Linked DNA regions of Homo sapiens. The protein of the gene in region 2 interacts with the protein of the main gene of each other region in a pairwise test. Each region holds a gene or a part of one and is shown on either strand. Other genes may lie near its edges.

The links.
Region 1: the proteins of KIF1B (region 2) and ZBTB24 interact in binary tests that used the Homo sapiens proteins (3 or more experiments, as listed by UniProt).

Annotation. Positions count from the first base shown.
Region 1 is NC_000006.12:109,476,556-109,480,757, forward strand, and holds part of ZBTB24 (zinc finger and BTB domain-containing protein 24), read right to left. Parts: intron 376-4,202; coding exon 208-375; intron 1-207. UniProt on the Homo sapiens protein: May be involved in BMP2-induced transcription.
Region 2 is NC_000001.11:10,290,308-10,294,509, reverse strand, and holds part of KIF1B (kinesin-like protein KIF1B), read right to left. Parts: intron 3,429-4,202; coding exon 3,349-3,428; intron 2,464-3,348; coding exon 2,388-2,463; intron 1-2,387. UniProt on the Homo sapiens protein: Has a plus-end-directed microtubule motor activity and functions as a motor for transport of vesicles and organelles along microtubules.

The sequences.
Region 1 (4,202 bases), on a different chromosome or scaffold from region 2:
TAAACTCCCAGCAGCCAGTTTATAAGCTCTAGTTTAATGATCCGTGCAGAACTCTAAACTGCACTCAGACAGATGCAAAATCCTGTCTTTCAATGACACCACGTTGGAAATGATACTAGGCTGAGAAAACACCATTTAGGTGTTGGTAATGCCCACCCTGGGGAATGGGAATCTGGTGAAGCTGGCCCTCTGGGCAAGCCCCACTACCTGAGTGCAGGCTCATGTGCTCCAGCAGTGAGTGCTTGGTGGTCAGAGCCTTGCTGCACACGGTGCAGGTGTACGGCCGCTCGCCTGTGTGCATCCTGGTGTGGACCTGTAGCGAGTGCTTCTGGGCAAAGCCTTTTCCACACTCATTACATTTGAAAGGTCGCTCCCCTGGAAGAAGAGCCCCAGAAGCATGGTATAAGTAAGAATCCACACATTTTTCTGTCTCTCCCAAATTAAAAAAACAATAAAGGATTTTTCTTAAAAGGCACACATCCAAAAGGCCAACAATGAACACAAGAGACATCAGCAATAAAATTTTGGAAGCTGAACAGATGAATCTGAAGCCAGCAGTGAGTAGCACTAACATAACCTAATTTTTTGTTTTTCCTTTGTAACAGGGTCTCACTCTATCACCCAGGCTGGAGTGCAGTGGCGCTACCATAGCTGACTATAGCCTCAACCTCCTGGGAACAAATGATCTTCCCACTTCAGCCTCCTGAGTAGCTGGGATCACAGGCATGTGCCACCACTACACCCAGCTAATTTTTTAATTGTAATTTTAATTTTTTTTAGAGATGGGATCTCACTATGTTGCCCAGGCAGGTCTCCAACTCCTGGGCTCAAGCAATCTTCCTGCCTCGGCCTCCCAAATTGCTGGGAGTACAGGCATGAGCCACCACACCCAGCCCAATACAACCTAATTTTTAAGACACAATCTCCTAAGGCTCAGGAATTGGTGGCACCTGCTATCTCTGGAAACAGGGGTGAGGGAGGGTAAATGAAAGTCTGTTTCAAAGGTGCTTAGACCCCTGATCAAATCTTCCACTCTACACAGCCAGGAGACTGTCCCTCCCCCAAAAGAGAATGGAGAGTGTTCACTGAGGAGGGTTAAGAAAAAGGGGTCTTTGGATTAGGAGTTTCTAGGCACAGTTGAGTTGGGATCACCACAGGGAGAGTAAGTCAACATTTCCATCTGGGATGATGAGACTCCCCCACTCCTTCTTCCCCATCCTGTCCTAGACACAGGCCAGCAGCCAGGCCTAGTGCCTCCAAGTGGGAGAGCAGAAGCGTCTTCCAGTGGAACATGAGAGGTCCAAGGTGAGAGAGCAAAGATGTGGAAGCCAGGCACCAGTAAGGACATGGGGCACAGCCACACCACCTCCAGTGAGGTTATGACAGGCCTCCATACAACTGTTTCAGTACTGACTGAGTGGTTAAGTTAAACATTAAAAGCCAGTGCCCTTAAACAAAGGCTGGAATGTAACAAAAGCCCACCAAGAGTTTCCCCTAGGCTTCTCCTGGGCCTTAAAGCATGACAAAATAACGAAGGAATTCTTAACAGGGCCCACTTAGGATTAAACAAGTTTTACTGGGGATCTGAAGGAACTCCCCAAATCTCCGTGATTTAGCAGAAGATAAGGGTAATCACCCCAGCACCTAGACCCATTTAGATTAAGTAAACTTACTGAGGCTCCAGAAGAAGGTCTTTGGGACGCAGACCTTGGATATAGATTAAAAGAAGTTAATCACCTACGTCTTTAGAGGAATGCACACTTACAGACAGACATACAGCTTAGGCGGTATATAAGCTCTGAAAAATTCTGTAATTTTGAGTTGGTCTGGCGATAATTTCCAGGCCTTCTCCCTATAACTGGTTACAGAAATAAAAACTCTCTTCCTCTCCAATTCATCTGCATCTCATTATTGGGCCACGAGAAATAGCAGCCTGACTCTCAGTGTGATCTGGGAACAAGGTCACAGTTTTACAGACTCTCTCATACAAAAAAAATTAGCCAGGCATGGTGGTGCGTGCCTGTAATCCCAGCTACTTGGGTGGCTGAGGCAGGAGAATCACTTGAATCCAGGAGGCGGAGGTTGTGGTGATCGGAGATCACGCCATTGCACTCCAGCCTGGGCAACAGCCTAAGAAATAAATAAAATACAGGCTCTCTCCACACATGCAGCATTGCCAGTAGCTTTTAGCAACCCACCCTTACATATGATTTAAAAAAAAAACACCAGGCACTCAAGGAGAGCCTTTTGTAATAGTGACAGACAAACAAGCAAGAAGAAAAAAAAAAGCAACTTGCCTCCAGTGAGGAAAATGTTGTTATCATTAACATGCTCATAGAGGTAAGATAATACATTGTGAAATAAAAAGATCATTCAAATTAAAACATTTAGAAAAAAAAGAGCTCCTAAAGGGGGAAAAAAATAAGAGTTGAAACAGAAAACCTCAAAGGGCTGAAAAACAAAGTGGAAATCCCCCAGAGGGTGGGGCCAAAAATGATGGAAAATATAAGAGAAAATAAAGTTAGAGAGAACAGAGAAAACAGAGAGGAGAAATCATCTATGAAATAACTCAAGATTTTCCAGAACTGAAAGACAGTTTCCAAACCTTATGAATCTACCTGTTATCTACCCAGATGGAAGAAAACAGACCCATACTAAAGTGATGGGCTGCAAAATTCAGAATACAGATGCTTCCTGACTTATGATGGGACTACATCTAACAAACCCATCATACTGAAAATATCATAAGGAAAAATGCACTTATACAGAGTACTGTATGAATGCACCAAATGCAGAGTACTGGTCATTTACCCACGTGACTGTGTGGCCCGGCATGGCATGAGAGGATCATACTGAATATTACTAGACCGGGAAAAGATCAAAACTCAGAATTCAAAGTACAGTTTCTGTTGAACATGTACTGCTTTCACACTATTGTAAAGATGAATTGAACCATTGTGAGTCGGGGACTGTCTGTACTGAGGACATAAGGGAAGAACGATCCTACATGCTTTTTCTTAAGTCTTGTATAATGATTTAACTCTAAACTATGCACATAAAATTTTTGATAAAAATAGCCAGCTGGGCGCAGTGGCGCACGCCTGTAATCCCAGCACTTTGGGAGGCTGAGGCAGGCAGATCACGAGGTCAGGAGTTTGAGACCAGCCTGACCAACATGGTGAAACCCCGTCTCTACTAAAAATACAAAAAATTAGCTGGGCGTGGTGGCGTGTGCCTGTAATCCCAGCTACTCAGGAGGCTGAGGCAGGAGAATCACTTGAACTCGGGAGGCGGAGGTTGCGGTGAGCCGAGATCGCGCCACTGCACTCTAGCCTGGGTGACAGAGCGAGAATCCATCTCAAAAAAAAAAAAAAAAAAAAAAAAAAAGCTAAAATATAACCTATTACAGTTCAACAAATATTTCTCAAGTATCCACTTTGTTCGAAGTACCTGAATTCAAGCTCTTCAACCTATCTGTAGCTAAAGTCTTTAGGGAGCTTTTAAAAGCACCAAGGCTCCAGACAACTAAATCAGAAGCTCTGGGGTGGAGGTCTAGGCACTGGTAGTTTTAGAAGCTCCCTAAGTGATTCCAATTTGCAGGCTGAGAACCACAGCACCAGATACTGCTGGATCACAGGAGAAGACTTAAGCCCCAGTCCCTATACTTAAGATTACAATTAAGTTGAGGGATATACAAGTGGTAACAACAATCTGATCCAAAGCAGAGTGGGTTTTAAGCACCTGAAAGGGCTCAAAGGAGGAAGGGATTTCTCACTAGGACTGCAGTGTCCAATACGGTAGCCACTAGCCACATGTGGTTATTCAAATTTAAATGAATTAAAATAAAATTTAAAATTCAGTTTCTCAGTCACGCTAGCCACAGTTCAAGTGCTCAAAAACCACATGTGGTTACTGGCCACCATATTGGACATCAGAGATGTAGGAACATTTCCATCATCACAGAAGGGTCCCATTGGTCAGCGCTGGGCTAGAGGGACCAAAAATGAGAAGGTATTTAAAGCTAGATAGCTGAGTTACAAAGTGATCTACACAGACTTGGGCAAAAGCATGGTTATGGTCAAGATGAAGAATGTTCAAGAATCAGAAAGCAGGGTACATTGGGCTAGATCTTGATAAGTGGACATTAAAGGATTCATTCAACAACTACAAATGAGAGGGGTTCTTGAACCAGGCTACCTGGG
Region 2 (4,202 bases):
TGACAGGCCAATTCTCTGAACGGAATAATTATAATTTTTGTAAATGCCTGGGTAAAAATCTCAAGAAATATTTACTTTTATTAAAATGTCCCCATACCCCCCCACCACTTCCCACTATAATTTTTATCAGTTCTTCTGATCCCAGTTATTAATTTGTCTTTACCTTAAAAGATTTTAATTTATTAGTCTTTACCTTAAAGAAAAAAGTAAAATTACTGATATTCGATAAGATAAACATCTTCTAACAATCCTCTTCATCTAACTCTAATATTTCTAAAATCTTTTTAAAAAACCAACCTTCTTTAGTGAAAATAACCCACTGGAATCCAAAAATAAGTCACATGGTCTTGAGGCCAAAATCTACTCAAGAGAGTGCCAGCAAATGTGGAAGAATGAAAGAAGAGTCAGATGAGGGGGTAGGAAAAGGAACTATAAAAGATGGTTAAAGAGAAATCTGAAAAACCTCCACATCTTCTCAACTAGCATCCCCCTTTGTAGTTGAAGAACTTGACTGGTTTGAGAAAGTCAAAGCCCTTTGTGAGTAGCATTCTTTAAAGCACATCATAATTTGAAAAATGGAATCTCAGAAACAGGTCCTAAGACTGAGTTTGGATGTGGTCACTGGTATATCCCTTCCTTTCATGAAGAAGTCTAGAAAGCTAAAGCAAGATGGGTAAAATTAAAGTAAGAAAAAGCTTTGGAAGCAGAGATCTCACTTTGGAATTCCATGCAGTGTACATCTCAACATTTGTTCAAGTTATTTATGATTTATGTTAAATGCATAATATTTTCACTAGTTGTTATAATAAAAATTTTCCAGCCAGGCACAGTGGCTCATGCCTGTAATCCCAGCACTTCGAGAGGCTGAAGTGGGTGGATCACAAAGTCAAGAGATCAAGACCACCCTTGGCCAACATGGTGAAACCGTCTCTACTAAAAATACAAAACTTAGCTGGGCGTGGTGGCATGTGCCTGCAGTCCAGCTACTTGGGAGGCTGAGGCAGGAGAATCACTTGAACCCGGGAGGCGGAGGTTGCAGTGAGCCAAGATCACACCACTGCAGTCCAGCCTGGCGACAGAGTGAGACTCTGTCTCAAAAAAAAAAAAAAAAAAAAATTTCCTCACAGTCTTTAATACTGTAAGATGTTATAAAATACCTTTATTAGACATATGCATAGGCACAATTAAATTCCACCAAAACTGTAACTGCTAAAATCTATATAATCCTAAGTAACATATCTGAATGAATACATGTCTTACTGAAGGAAAAACTATTAAAACTGTGAAAACCACTAACCTTTCATAATATAAACATATAAAATACTTAACTGTTCTATTCTACAATATGCATCTAAAATGTCTTTACATCAGTCTTTTCTGTTGAAAATAACACATTGGAATTTGGGAAGAAAAAAAAAAAAAAGTTATGTGGCCAGGATAGAAAAACCTGACCAGAAGAATTGTAGCGAAAACCACAGGAATATTTCATATCACATAAAAGTACCAATTCAAAACTCACCACCCCTTGTATCCTAACTTAGAGAGATCATCAACAGAACCTATGAATAAAGATGTTTAAGTCTCCAATAGCCAATGTGAGGTCACTTGAAATAAAGGACAATTTACTAGTGGCATAAAATACATGCTTTGTACATCGATATATGTTCTCCTATTTTCTGATACATAAGCACACAAAATAACCATTTGATAGTCATTTTCTAGTATCCAACAAGACGTTGCAACTTAGTTTAAGAAAAAAACAAAAAAACCCTTACTACTCTAATTAGCTAAAAGCTACGTAACTACTTCATAACTATGATTATGTAAAAAGGAAGGTAACTATTGGAGACACTTTTTAAAAAATGAAGAAGGAAGCAGAGGAGTCTAGAAGGATAGGGACAGGAATTGCTTTACTTAGTACAATGGCTGTCTATAATACAAATTGCAGAAGCAAATGGAAGCAGTATTATTCTCCACAAACCTGTACAGCTGAAATTGGTTCCAAAAAGTTATAAAGCAGGGTAGACGACTTCTGTGGGAAAATCTACATGAAAGAGTAGCCAAAACTGAAAGTACGCTAGGTTAGGCTGGGAATTTAAGAGAAAGCAACAAATAAAGATGACTAAACAAACTGAATCATGGCCAAAGGTTACATATTGCCTTAGGTTTTTTCTTTTGTAAACAGTAAACAAGATAGGCATTTTAGAAATAGGCTGCCTTTGTACTATAAGACCATGCTCTAAGATGAAATCAGAAATATCTGAAATTAAGGCAAGTATCAAGATAATAAGGGGGAGAGTAGGTCCTGAAAGACATGAAGTGCCCCAGTAACAAAGACAAACAAAAAGTGTCTCTGTCTGATTAGGTTTCACAGCATTGTTTCCTACCTTTTTAGGTGAGAAAACCCCTAGGGTTCCTCCATCTTCCCGAATGGCAACTCCCATCTCAGCCAACAAAGCCTCTCTAGGAAAAAAACAGGTATATCAGAACACTAATACCAAAATGTCAATTAAATCAGTCTAATATGAATTGGAAAATAAAGCCTGCAAAGCAAAAACAACTGGCCATGTTTATAGCCAATAATGCAAACATAAAATAATGTGCTTATCTCATCATTAATGAGAAGTTATTTCTAAAAGCAACATCACATTCAAAATCAATGAAATCTTGCTTTGTTAAAGTTATATTCACTGAGATAAGAACTTTGTCTCAACTGACTTTGGGATAGTCAATAATTCATAAATGATATGCATATTAATATAAAAAAGAAAAGAAGAGGCTATTCCTTTTTTTTTTTTTTGAGACAGAGTCTTGCTGTCACCCAGGCTGCAGTGCAGTGGCACCATCTCGGCTCACTGCAAACTCTGCCTCCCAGGTTCACGCCATTCTCCTGCCTCAGCCTCCCGAGTAGCTGGGACTACAGGTGCCCACCACCATGCCCGGCTAATTTGTTTTGTATTTTTAGTAGAGATGGGGTTTCACCATGCTAGCCAGGATGGTCTCGATCTCCCGACCTCGTGATCTGCCCACCTCAGCCTCCCAAAGTGCTGGCATTACAGGCGTGAGCCACCGCGCCTGGCCAATATGTTCCATTTTTATGAATCCCTAGCAACATGTAATATGGTAACTAATAAACCTGTGACTCCCTAGATAATATTTAAATATGTAGATGTCATTTCAAAGCATAAATTCAACTGGCCATAAATCCCTGTCCATTTTTTTGGTTTCGTTTTGTGTTTTAGAAGGGCAGACTCTTTGATTTTAATTTATATTTTATCTTTTCTTACGATAAAGTAATCCACATCCCCTAGAAAACTTAGAAACATTTCCAGATTTTAACCTCCTGACCTCTCCATTCTGATGGCCTCTGTTTTACGAAGCTTCTCTTCCCAAGTTTCATTCAACTCAGCAATGATCTTCTCTGATTCCTAAGGAAGGAAGCGCACAGTTAAAGAGGCAAAGAGTCTTATAATTTAACATACCATGCTAGAAAAGCAAGAAGCAAATCATGCCCTTTGAGGATACAGGCCAGAATTAAATGTAAAGAGATTTTTCTTTTATTAATACATAAGATAAGAATCATAAAGATTAGACCTAAAACTAAATCAACCCCAAACAAATAAATCCTCCAAGTCTTTTTTTTTTTTGAGACGGAGTCTTCCTTTGTCACCAGGCTGCAGTGGCGCGATCTCAGATCACTGCAACCTCACCTCTGGGGATCAAGTGATTCTCCTGCCTCAGCCTCCCGAGCAGCTGGGACTACAGGCACGTGCCACCACGCCCAGTTAATTTTTGTATTTTTAGTAGAGACGGGGTTTCACCATGTTGGCCAGGATGGTCTCAAGCTCTTGACCTCGTGATCCACGTGGGCATGGTGGCAGGCGCCTGTAATCCCAGCTACTCAGGAGGCTGAGGAAGGAGAATGGCATGAACCCGGGAGGCAGAGCTTGCAGCGAGCCGAGATCGCGCCACTGCACTGCAGCCTGAGCAACAGAGCAAAACTCCATCTCAAAAAAAGAAAAAAAAGAATAAAGTTCCCAAACGTATTTACTGCTTTTGTTTCACTACAATTTCGCCATAACACACTAACCTCCTGAACACAACCCAGCAGTCAACATAGAAAGGTTTACTATTAAATCGCATCTGAAGACACACACTGAAGTGACAATTTACCAATCACTTGCTGAGTGTTTACACTTATA